Regions from separate parts of the Homo sapiens genome. Here region 2 is linked to region 1. A link means that fine-mapping ties the variant in region 1 to the expression of a gene that starts in the linked region. Tissue or cell type: adrenal gland. Region 1 holds a variant in brackets; the other region holds the start of a gene. All regions are shown on one strand. Distances are from middle to middle.

What was found. PIP is the estimated chance that this variant, and not a neighbour inherited with it, causes the effect.
Region 2: GPRC5B starts here. The variant in region 1 is fine-mapped to the expression of GPRC5B in adrenal gland (GTEx, PIP above 0.99).

The regions. Positions count from the first base shown.
Region 1 is chr16:19,848,696-19,856,178 of GRCh38, reverse strand. The region is part of intron 8 of IQCK (IQ motif containing K); the gene reads right to left. Among named protein-coding and RNA genes, the nearest start is that of GPRC5B, 32 kb to the left of the region's middle. RefSeq lists enhancers at 1,144-2,063, 2,064-2,982. The variant G/A (reference allele first, on the strand shown) is at 4,471.
Region 2 is chr16:19,882,297-19,887,296 of GRCh38, reverse strand. GPRC5B (G protein-coupled receptor class C group 5 member B) reads left to right here and starts at 2,449. Exons shown (of 4, transcript NM_016235.3): 1 at 2,449-2,570. RefSeq lists a silencer at 1,896-2,190 and enhancers at 3,706-4,436, 4,437-5,000.

The DNA of each region.
Region 1 (7,483 bases):
CGATGACAGATTCCAGGCTCTCCGCTCAACCCCATCTGTCACCACACACCCTGTTCTCCAGCCACCCAAAATGGAAAACTCAGGGTATCACTGGGGGCAATGCAAAGGTCTGAAGAAAATCTTTTCTCTTATGTCATGGTCTGGACCAAGAACCTGATCTCGGTGATTTCCTGTGTCTGCCAAACAGGAAAGTTAGCTCCATACAGGGTATGGCTCTGTGTGTAAGGGGAATTAATCCCAACAGATAAAAGCCTCTCCCCAATTAAATATGGAAACCCAGTCCCTTGGTGGGTGCAGTAGGGATCCTTTTGGAAAGACCCTCTCTTTTAATATATCTTTGTCTGGAGTGTCCAAGTGCTGCTTGCCCATATGTGAATGTCTTGAAAGGTGGTTTGAGCCAGGCCACAGGTTCTGATGATTTGTGGAGAGCATTGTTCTGGTAAAAAGGGTGTTTGAGCTTGTTACTATGTAGGGCTGAGGTTTCAAGTGAACCTGCCCTCGTCCTGACCTCCCAGCAACTAAGGGCATGCACCAGCCAGATGCGGCAAAGAGGTGGGTATGTACACCATCCCATGAAATGCACTTTTTTGTTTTTTTGGGGACAGAGTCTCTCTTGTCCAGGCTGGAGTGCAGTGGCAAGATCTCGGCACACTGCAACCTCCGCCTCGCAGGTTCAAGCGATTCTCCTGCCTCAGCATCCCAAGTAGCTACAGGCGTGCACCACCACGCCCTGCTACTTTTTGTATTTTTAGTAGAGATGGGTTTCCCAATGTTGCCCAGGCTGGTCTCGAACTCCCAGCCTCAAGTGATCCACCCGCCTCAGCCTCCCAAAGTGCTGGGGTTACAGGTGTGAGCCACTGCGCCTGGCCCTGTGGTTATTTTCTGATGGAGGTGGGATGAGGGCCTTCAGCAACACAGACCAGCCCTGCAGTCTTCAAACTGAGGGCAAGGGTTCTTGGTCATGGTTCATTCAAAGGAAATCAATTTCCAGATCATCAGCTTCCCACCCTCCTGTCATTCCTGGCCCAGTGTGTAAAGACTCCCCAGGTGCCAAACAAGAAGGCAGTTCAAAATGAGGGCCCTCAGAGTCTCCTTATTTTCTATGTTTGACAACTATCAAATTGTATCATGTATTTATTTGGTTTTGCGTACTACTAATCATTGTATTAGCAACACAAATCAGAAAAAAATATTTTTAATACTTGGAGCCTGTGGTCACAGGACATTTTAAAACATTTTTTCAAGGTATATACCTTTTTTATTCCATTTATATGGAAGCTCTATGGGCAACCACAGTGAAAACCCTATGTGCTTCTAGACCCTACTAACGATGACATTGACTCTTCATAGTCAAGGATGCGCCACACCTCCCTAAAGACTGTCCCACTAGCTGTGATTAACAGCTCCCCAGGGATTGGGGGAGAGTCCCGAGTTGTATCATTTGCCATTTCCATAGCCTATTGGAAGCCAGCAGCCTGACAACGTAACAGAGTTGGGAAGAGGTGCGCACAGTCAGATGGAGCGGGGCTGCCCTGGATCCCCCCAGGGAGGTACACAGGTCAACTAGTGCAGCCAGCATCAGGCATAACTTCAGACCTGCAGGCTGGCTCTCTAGGGACAAATTGGGGACATCTGCAATAGGGGGAAATTGTTAGAAATGCAAATTCAGGGCCCTTTTCCAGGCAGACAGAACCAGACACTGGGGGTGGAGCCCATCCATCTGCATTTTAACAAGGCCTCCAGGTGATTCTGATGGATCAGGCTGGGTCTCTAGGGACAAGTTGGGGACATTTGCAATAGGGGGAAATTGTTAGAAATGCAAATTCAGGGCCCTTTTCCAGGCAGAGAGAACCAGACACTGGGGGTGGAGCCCACCCATCTACAGTTTAACAAGGCCTCCAGGTGATTCTGATGGATGCTAGTTAAAGTTTGAGAACCACTGATTACTGGTTTTCTACCCTGGCTGCTTGTAAGAATCACATGGTCAGCTTCTGAAATTTATTGGTGCCTGGGTTTCACTCCAGCAATTCTGATGTAACTACCCTGGGGCCTGGGCATCAGTAGCTAGGTAAAGCTCCTGTGTGTTGCTAAGGTTCAGCCAGGGTTGAGACACAGATGGGGCTTAGAATCCCTTTAAAGAAACGTGACTGTAGGACCCTGAAGAGTCTAGAATTCCCCTCAACTTATTAACATCATGCTGGCTGCCTGTGAGTCTCACAGTTTAAGCTGCTAGAGAGAGAGTTGGCAGACAGGCTGGGCACAGTGGCTCACGCCTATAATCCCAGCACTCTGGGAGGCCGAGGCACGTGGGTCACTTGAGGTCAGGGGTTCGAGACCAGCCTGGCCAACATGGTGAAACCCTGTCTACTAAAATTACAAAAATTAGCTGGGCGTGGTGGCAGGCGCCTGTTAATCCCAGCTACTTGGGAGCCTGAGGCAGGAGAATCGCTTGAAGGGAGGCAGAGGGTGCAGTGAGCCAAGATCGTGTTACTGCACTCCAGCCTGGGTGGCAGAGCAAGACTGTCTCAAAAAAAGAAAAAGAGAGAGAGAGATAGCTGGCAGACAGACAGATGCTGGAGGCAATTAATAGCTGGAGGGAAGGACTGGCTTCTGGGAGAATTCCCCAGCCCTTGGGTTTTCTTTAGTTTTCTTCAACTGCCTGAAGGAAGAATTCACCTGCAAGCTGTTGTCCTGGTATTTTACCCAATTCCTGTCCATACCTTGACAACCTTGTTGCCTACTCCCTACGTGTTGACCTTGCTTGGGAAAAAGCCCCTTAGTATCTCTTTAGATCATCACTCAGAAATCTTGACAGAGGAGAGCAGAAAGGAATGAGCTAGGGACCTTGTTCATGGGGGAGGACCGAGAGGTGTTATCTCGAGTTGACGGGCTGGAAATCAAGGTGTGACGTGGAGCCTCCCAGTGGAATTACCTGGGGATTTCTGAACACCCTACACAATTAGGTCACCATCTCTGGAGGCACAACTACACTGGAAAACTGCTTGGCGTTACCAAATGGAACTGAGTCTGACAGTGAATACAAATGATTCCACTCCCGTATCCCACTGCAGAAACCCTTCCATACGTGTACTGGGAGGATGCTCGTGATAGCAAAACCTGGACACAACCCAAATGTCCATCAGCAGTTGACTGGATAAACCAATTGTGGTCTACTTGACCAGTGATTATACAACACTGAACATGAGTGAGCCGAAGCCACACGCATCAACTTGGATTAGCTCAAAAATGTTGAAGGAGGCCGCGTGCGGTGGCTCACGCCTGTAATCCCAGCACATTGGGAGGCTGAGGCGGGCAGATCACGAGATCAGGAGATCAAGACCATCCTGGCTAACACGGTGAAACCCCGTCTCTACTAAAAACACAAAAAATTAGCCGGGCATGGTGGCGGGCACCTGTAGTCCCAGCTACTCGGGAGGCTGAGGCAGGAGAATGGCGTGAACCCAGGAGGCGGAGCTTGCAGTAAGCCAAGATCGCGTCACTGCACTCCAGCCTGGGCGACAGGGCGAGACTCCATCTCAAAAAAAAAAAAAAAAAAAAAGTTGAAGGAAAGATGAGAGGCACGGAATAATACATATAGTGTGATTCTATTTATAGCAAATCTAAATGCTGAGAGATGCATACAAACGTGAAAAGAGCTCCAAAGAAAAGCAAGAGAACAGCTATCATGATAGTCAGAGAAGTGGCTTCATGGGGGAAGAGCTTTAAAACTGTTGACAGTGTTCTGTTTGTTTGTTTGTTTGTTTGTTTGTTAAATGTTGTAGAGAGGTCTCGCTTTGTTGCCCAGGCTGGAGTGCAGTGGTGCGATCATAGCTCCCTGCAGCCTCTGGAGGCTTGTGGAGGCTCAAGCGATCCTCCACAAATGTTTTTATTTATTGTTATATGTGTTTTATAGCCACTGTTGTACGCATATTTCACCCCCCAAAAGGTAAAAAGAAATAGGTATGTTCGTGTATTGCTTGAAATTACAAAGCCAACCAATAAAGGCATGGAAAAGAATGATTTAGCTGTTTTGAGGAGGGGAGGGATGGAATCTAAGCTAACCCTCACCTATCATGGCAGGAAATCAGTAGATCCTATTGAAAATCTTATTACCATAGAGACCTGTTCCAGATACAGAAGTAACACCCCGAGGAGCAGCTGAAGTTCAAAGTCATTGCCTCTGGGGATGCACTACTTTGCTAAAAATTAAGCAAGAGATAAAATCTCGACTTGGTGGTCTTCCTCCTCCTGGTCTTAGCAGAACACAGCCTTGCACAGGTAGGTACTTGATCAGCGGAGGGAGGAAAAGGGGAGGGAAGCAGGGGTGAGAGGCAGGAGAGAAGAAGTAAGCCAGGATGCTGTAGAATGCAGCTTCCACCTTAGCTCGGAGACATCATCGTGGTTGGCTTCCAACACCAACAGACAGATGCCTCGGCACCCCTATGCTGTCCTTGTCCCTCTCAGCAGGCT[G/A]GTGCCCAGCCAGTTCCGGAAGGGCTGGGAGAGTGGAAAATCCCAGAGAGAGATACGCCAGCCCTTCAGCTTCAATTAAAGGCAATGTGACAAGAAGGGCCTTGCATACTAATAAGACTCAGTACATCTTCTCCTCGTGGTCGCCCTTATCCTCTCCTGTTCCTGTGAGTGACAGGACTGAGAATTCAATTCACAGCCCAGAGAAAAACCTCCCAGCCAGCAGCACAGGACAGATAAAGAAAATGCCTAAAGCTCAAGACAGGAAATTTGGGGACCACAGGGTCATCCGGCCACTCATACAATGTTGTCCAGACAGGGCCTCAGCATGAAAGGATGACCTGGGGTGAAAATATAGATTCCTGGGCCCCACCCCAGACCTTTAGAAACAGAATCTCCAGGAGTGAGGCCTGGGAATCAGTATCCCCTCCCCCTCAGTGCTGTGGGTGGGTGTTTTGATCTGGCAAGTTTGGGAAAGAGAGCAGATTTGGGCAAGTTTGGGAAACAGTGCCTGTTTCCTGAGGGCCTCAGTCAACTGTGAGCCAGGGTTGAGAATGGCACCTGCCTCCTAAGGGCGCTGAGAGAAGCAAAAGAGGCAAGCTGTGCAAAATGCAAAGTGCTCAGCACTGGTTCTGACCCAGAGTTAGGCACTTGATAAATATCAGCTATTATTATTCGCGTTTTTATTGAGACCAGGTCTCGCTCTGTTACCCAGGCTGGAAAGCAGTGGTGCAAATCAGGGCTCACTGCAGTCTCAACCTCCTGGGCTCAAATGGTCCTTCCACTTCAGCCTCCTAAGTATTAATAGCTGGGACCACACACACGCACCACCATGCCTGGCTAATATATTTTTATTTTGGGTTGAGATAGGGTCTTGCTATGTTGCCCAGCCTAGTCTCTAACTCCTGGGCTCAAGCAGTCCTCCTGCCTCAGCCTCCCAAGATGATAGGGTCACAGGTGTGAGCCACAGCACCCAGCCAGCTATTATTTTGCTTAGGGCATATTCTTTGCCCTCAAAGAGGTCACAGTATAGAAGGTGAGGCAGAAAAAATCAACAGGAAATTGTACGAACCACGAGATGCTCACATACTGCGGGGAGAACTTGCTTCAATAGATGACCATCTGCCACGCAGCTATGGACCACAACCGTGCTGGGGCCTGGGGTTACAAGGAGGAGACTGGCTCACGCTCCCAAATCAGCAATATCTATGAGAAACCTTAAAATGTTCATCTTTTACTCAATTAGCTCCCGATTTCTAGGATTCCAGGTAAATAATAAAAGCAAACACTTCTATGGTACTTATGAAGCCCTTGACACATACGAAGTCATAGTGAGCTAAGTGCTATTATTTTCCCCAGTTTTACAGGTAGGGAGACTGAAGCAGAGACAGGTCATGCAACTTGCTCAAGGTTACGCTGTGAGCTGTCTGGCTGCTGCTGCTCTTAAAACTCTACAGGGTCAAGATCTCACAACTGCCTCCCACCAGGACAGCAAAAATGTCTGTGATTAAAGAAGCAACAATGATGTTACGCAGACAAAGGTGTTCACTTCCGCATCCTCTACCACATAAACAGTTTGAGAACAACCTAAATGCCCAAAAGTCAGGGAATGATTAAGTATCTGACAACCTATAACCTTGATGTGATGTAATATAATGAAGCCATAAAAACATGATGTTTTGGCAAAGTGTAAAAACAGGGAGAAATGTCAGTGGGAAAATACGGTGCAGCACATTTCCTATAAATTTCCATTATGCAAATTTGAAATTGTTCAATACCAAGTTAATCATGTCTCCAAGGAGTACAAGGATGGCACGAGGGCATGGAGGCTTCTGTCTGTTAGAGCTGGAAGCCTAACAGATATAAACTGGGCTCCTTCATTTAATCATCCCTGCCTTCCTTTCTTTTCTTTCATTCCTTCTTTTTCTTTTCTTTTTCTTTTTTTTTTTCAGAGACAGGGTGTCATTCTGTTGCCCAGGCTGAAGTACATGGTGCAATCACAGCTCACTGCAGTCTTGACTTCCTGGGCTCAAGTGATCCTCCTGCCTCAGCCTCCCAAGTGGCTGGGGCTACAGGTGTGCACCACCATGCCCGAATATTTTTTTTACTTTTTGTAGAGATGGGATCTCACTATGTTGTCCAGGCTGGTCTCGAACTGCTGGGCTTAAGTGATCCTACTGTCTTGGCCTCCCAAAGCGCTGAGATTACAGGTATGAGCCACCGCACCCAGCCCCTGCCTTTCTAAAGAAAAAAAAAAGTTTACTTTTTAAAATTTTTATTTTTTTAGAACAAGTGACTCCTATTCCACATTCATTCTTGGGTGAGATTTTCATAATACATCACTTAAGTGTAACTGCCCTGTAGAAAATTACATTCATTACGTCCAAAATTACATCTATTGCTCAACTAAGTTATAACCCAGCATCTCAAATACATAAAAAAAAAAAAAACCTGAACATAGATGTAATGATTGAAAGGAAACTGCTGAATTTTTGTTTTCCTGAATGTTCTACAGTATACCTGTATTGCTATACAACTGGGGGAAACTTTCTAAAAGAATCACCAGAAAATATACCAGACAAAAGAAAAAGACCCTCAGGGTAATCAACACCTAAACAGTATTGCTGCAATTAGAGCCCAAAGATGGGAGAAAGGCAGGAAGGATGAGAAATGGTGTCAAGTGGCCAATCAGAAGCTGCAGGGGAAACTCCCCGATCATCAGATCCAGGGTGGGGTGACAGTGACAAGAGATCCACCCACAAGTGGAGTGGCCTTAGTAGGGGTGACCATTCACAGAAATAATTATGAAATGTTTGCTAGGAAAAGTTTCTGATTAGCAAATTTCTAGGAAAATAACGTTTCCTCCTCAATGTGCTTGCTAATAAAAGGGTACACTTTGGCATCAAGCAGACGCAGTATTCAAATCCTGGCTCTGCCACTTAAAAGCTGGATGATACCCCACCTCTGCCCCCAGCCTCAATTTCCTCATTTGAGCTATAGGTATAATAATCTCCAC
Region 2 (5,000 bases), 32 kb before region 1:
CATGGGCAGTGCACTGACCATTTCTCAGGTGAGGAATAGAGCCAGGGAAGCCACTGGTTTTCATTAGACAAAGTGAACTGGGCACTTGAGAGCCTGACATGGCTCCCTGGACCTCCTGGAGCCATTCTCTCCAAGGCTGGAGACCCAGTGAACTCTCCTGGGAGGTGAGGTTCCTCTGTGACAATGTCTGACCTGACAGCAAATGACACCAGTCTAACCATTGGTGGATAATATGGCCTGCAGAGCCAGATGGCCTGGATTGGATTTTGTCTTTGCCAACCGTCTAACCCCGGGGCAGTACTTAACCCCTCTTGGCCTCAGTGTCTCCATCTGTAAAACAGGGAGAATAACAGTCTCTGGCCTAAAGGGTAACTGGGAGGATTAAATGAATTAAAGAATTTAAAACACTTAGAATAGCTCCTGGCACACAGAAAGCACTATGTACTCAGCTATTATTGTTATTATTATCATCCATGGGTGTTTGAACTTTTTGGAGGGAAGGAATGCACCTGCCACTCAATGTCCTCCTTCATTTTCACTCTGTGCTCCCTGTGGTATCATCACCCAAAGTGAAACTGACCATCACAGTCAGGGTCCTCTGTAAAACAAGTGGGAAAGGGAATATAACCGTAACTGCAATGTTAATCAGCTCATATTAAGGATTTTCCACATGCCAGACCCTGCGTGAAGCACTTTATATGTTAGCACGTGTTAGACCTTCACAACAACCCCAATAGGCATGTGCGATGAAAAAGATCTCCATTTTGCAGACGTTGAGGACATGTGGCTCACGAAAGTGAACTTGCCCACGTTGACAAAAGGATCTCGGCGTCAGTTCCAAGAGCTGCCACCAGGTGACAGTGCCCATCCACTTTCCAATTGCGCAGTCTGGCGGGAACACACTTTGGGTCGTCCCGCAAACATTTAATGAGCGCCTACTGTGCCTGGAACTGTTCTGGGCTCTGAGGATCCATGCAAATAAACCAGGAGTGGGGCGAAAAACTGCCATTATGGTTCTTCCTTTCCATTTTCCCTTGAATATAATAAAAGGTATCCCAGAGATGCGTGCCCAAGGGGGATGTGGCCTAACCGGACCGGAACTGGGAGGCTGGCAGGGAGGGATGGGAGTATCTGGAAGGGCCACGGTCCCCAAAGATCAGGGGCTGCCACTATTCCCAGAAGGAGGTGTTCTGCATCTCCCCTTCCTGCAGCCCCCGGGAGAGGGGAGCAGGGGTCCGTCCTATCCCTTTTGGTCTTATGTGGCTGGGATGGTTGCGGCGACGGGGGTAGAGATTGGGGGGCGCACCGCGGAGGGAGAAAGGAAATCTCACCCTGAGAATCTGGAGTGCAGGGAAGGGATGCTGCTCAAAGGTCTGTTTCTGGCTTTGGCGGGGGGCCACCTGAGACTGCCAGGGTTTGATGGTCTGAAGGTCACCCAGGGAACCAGCCCCATATGGGGTGCCGGAGCGCAGCTCCCAGGCCTGGTCGAAGCAATGCGACCTCGGAGAGGCCTGAGGACTAGGACGGGGTGAGGGGGACTCAGAGACGGCTGCCCCGGACCCCTCCTTCAAGCAGGTCCCACGGCCGCCCAGCGGACACGCGTCCGGGCTGTGCCCTGACCGTCTGCGGAGCGCACGGCCAGTGGCCCGGGCCGCTGAGTGTGTGAGCCCTGAAGGGCAGTGGACATGTGCGTACGTGGGTGATGTGTGCGGTAGGGGTGGTGGCGATCCTGCGTAGGGACCCACGTGAGGGGTGCACCGACTGGACGTGTGTGTTTCGAGGGGCCAAGGAAGCGGGTGTTGGTCCCAGTGTGCGTAAACGGACAACGACATCTGGGAGTTGGGCAGTGAGGAGAGAGAAGAGTGTGTCCAGGAGGAACCTGCCTGGAGGAGGCCTAGCGGTGTGTGTGCGCCTAGGTGTATACCGGGGCGTTGGTGACTTCGAGAGGCACCGGGCGGGATCGATCCTCTCTGCGTCCTGGACCTGGTGCTGGTGTGTTTCGGGGAAGTTACTGCTTATGAACCCCCCTTGGAGCGTGGCCTGGGGGCAGGAAGGCTTCCGCGCTGGGACCCCTGGGTCGCGATACCTCCCTCGGTAAGTGTATTGGCTAGGGGAGTGTTCCCGCAAATGGATCTACCCTGGGGAGTTGCCCGGCTCGTCTGGACTGCTTACGGGCGCACTGACGTTGTGGGGGGAATGTCCCCGAATTGGGGGCACGAGGTCGGGGGAATCGTCTCTGAGATCCGGGCTAGAAGCTACGAGCTTGGGCTCCGGGGGTGCATGCAGACGGCGCCTAGCCCCGCGCGGAACCGCCGGCGGGACCGGGGGTGGGGCTCGGAGGCCCGGGGGCGGGGCCGGCCGGGGGCGGGGGCGGGGGCGGGGCCGCGGCCGCTGCAGCAGCGCGGGCCGGGCCAGGGGGCGCCTCGCGCGGCAGCGACTCTGGCAGGCGCTGCAGTGAAGCTGGACCCGCAGGCGGGCGTGCGTGGAGCGGGGGCCGCGGCCGCGCCGCAGAGATGTGACTCGGGCCGAAGGCCAGCTGGAGCGTCGGCGCTGCGGGGCCGCGGGGGTCGGTAAGTGCGAGCTGCGCCGATGCAGTGGAGGACGCTGTGGGGACCCCAGAAACTTTTCCCGCCGTGGATTTGGGAGAATTGGGGGGTCCGCTTCTTGTGTTTTTCTAAGCGCCCCCCCAACCCAAGCCAGGGAGTTTATTGCTGGGGGAGATGTGGAATCTGGGCGAGGGGAACCACGGTGCGACGAGAGCAGAGCCGTAGAGGGGTGGGCGGGGGAGGGGAGGATCTGGGGACCTTTACGGGGGGAGGGAGACTGTGCCCGGACCAGGTAGAGATCCAAGTCTCCCAGGAGGGTGTGGGGGCGACCACAGGTGAAGGGCAGCTGGGAGGGTAAAGGAGCCCAGCCGTGTCCTAGTGACTCGTCATGTGTGAGGAGCTGCGGGCTGGTCCTGGGGCCGCGTTGGGGGCTGACTGTGGACAGGGCAGACGCAGCCGGGGGCACAAGGGCTGGACTTTGGGGGTGAACAGCCGCACCTGTCGCGGGGGCTGGGGGTCAAGCCCGCAGCCGGCTTGAGTGCGCATTACTCAGCAAGGGGAGGGGGGGACACGGCGGTGGGAGATGGCAGAGCTGAGACCTGGGCTGGGGACGAATGACGGGGAGGGGTGGGGAGGAGGGGGCGGCTGCATACAATGGCGGGGGGGGCAGTGGCGTTTCCCTTCCAGACAGGGGGCACTTGGACCTCTGGAAGAGGCGGCTAGGCTGGAGATAAGGACTAGACCTGTTCTCGGTCCCCTCTCCTTGGGGGACACAGGCTTCCAGCCCCACAAGGACCCCACACATCCCGGGGTCCCTAGCGCTTAGGCCGAAAAGGGAGCGCGCGGGAGGAGCCCGCACCCGCCTTGGCCCCGGGCAGCCGGTTGAACAGCCTGGGAAGGGGCCAACGACCTTGCCCCAGAAATCTCCCCCGTGCAGCGGGTTCACTCCTCCGTCCTTGCTCTGTCACACCCAGGCCTAGCCAGTCCTCCCTTTCCGTCCCCCGTTCGCTAAGGGGGCGGCTCCTTGGAGCGCGGACAAAGGCCCCTGGAGTGTGGCGGGCAGCGGCGTCCCCGCCTGGGGCCCCAGCCCACGCGCCACATTGGCCGCCCAACTGCACCAGGCCGGGGGGCACCTGAACAGAGCCCAGAAAGCCCTGGGGGACCCCGCAAAGACAAGAGAAGTGGGGGAGGGATCTGGCACAAAAACCCCGGCACTTCAGCCAAGGAACCTTCTTAATTCAGAAGTTTCTTCGGTGGGGACTCGGGCTTGCGGAGGATCCAGGCTTTGAGTTAAACTGCATGCAAATGACATGTAAATAGAATGCAAATTGGCATCTGTCGTTTGGAAGCCCTCCCGGCCAGTTTGGTATCTAAGACTGTGGAGTGAACAGTTTGCTATCTGCTCCCTGCTCTAAGCCTGGAAAGGGGTCAGCTGAGTTGGGAAGGGAAGGAGATTCCAGGAGGAAGGAGCCGCCATTTGGGGGCACAGGCAGCAAGACAGGCAGTTTTGTTAGAAAGATAAACTCAGAATCTTTACTGGATTAATATGTTATTTCAAGAAACGTGCCAGGGACAGAACTGGGTGCCTTGTATAAAACGGACAAAACCCCTGCTCTCCCGGGGCTGGGGAAGTGAGTGGACAAACATTAAACAAACCCATAGCAAATGGCTATGAAATCCGATTGGGGTGAGGACGGCCAGGAAAATAAGATGGGGTGATGTAAAAGAAGGTGACAGGGGTGTATGTACCTGAGATGACTGTTCCGGGAGTGACATTTGAGTGGAGCCCAGCTAGAAGAGGGGCCCTCCGCTGGGAGGTCTTGGAGGAAGACTGAACCAGGAGGAAGGCACTGTGCCTGCAAAAGCTTGGAGGTGGGAATGAGCTTAGAGGAACTGAACAAAGGCCATTGTGGCTGGAGCTGTAGGCAGATTTGGGGGTGGGGATAGGGGAATGGTAGGGACCAGCCAGATCATGATCTTTTGGGTCATGGAAAGGAGTTTAGGGTTTATTCTGTTTGGACCAGTGAACCCTTGGAGGGTTTTGAGTGGGAGGCCATGGGATCTGATTTGTAGAAGCTCCCCTGACGTTGACAAGGAAATGGAAAATAGCCCCCCTTTCCATTCTGCCCATGGGGATAGAGAGACGCTGGGAGCCTCCAAGGGGCTCTGTCCAGCCTTGGGGGACCGCTTTGAGCCTAGCCAGCCACTGCAAGCCAACTGGAGGAGCAGCTCAGGTTTTAAAATCCACTCCCTGCTTTCATACAGTTTTTATCCACTCTAACGGAGCCCCCCGGAGCCCACGGCCCCGTAAGCACTTTCTCGCAGAGCTTCCTGGGGGTTCCGCTTAGTCACATTTTCTTCTCGGAATTACAGCCTGAGAGGAACCAACCACTGTGGATCGGGCAGCCAAGGATGCAATTTGCATTTCAATGATTGCTTTTATTTACAGGACTG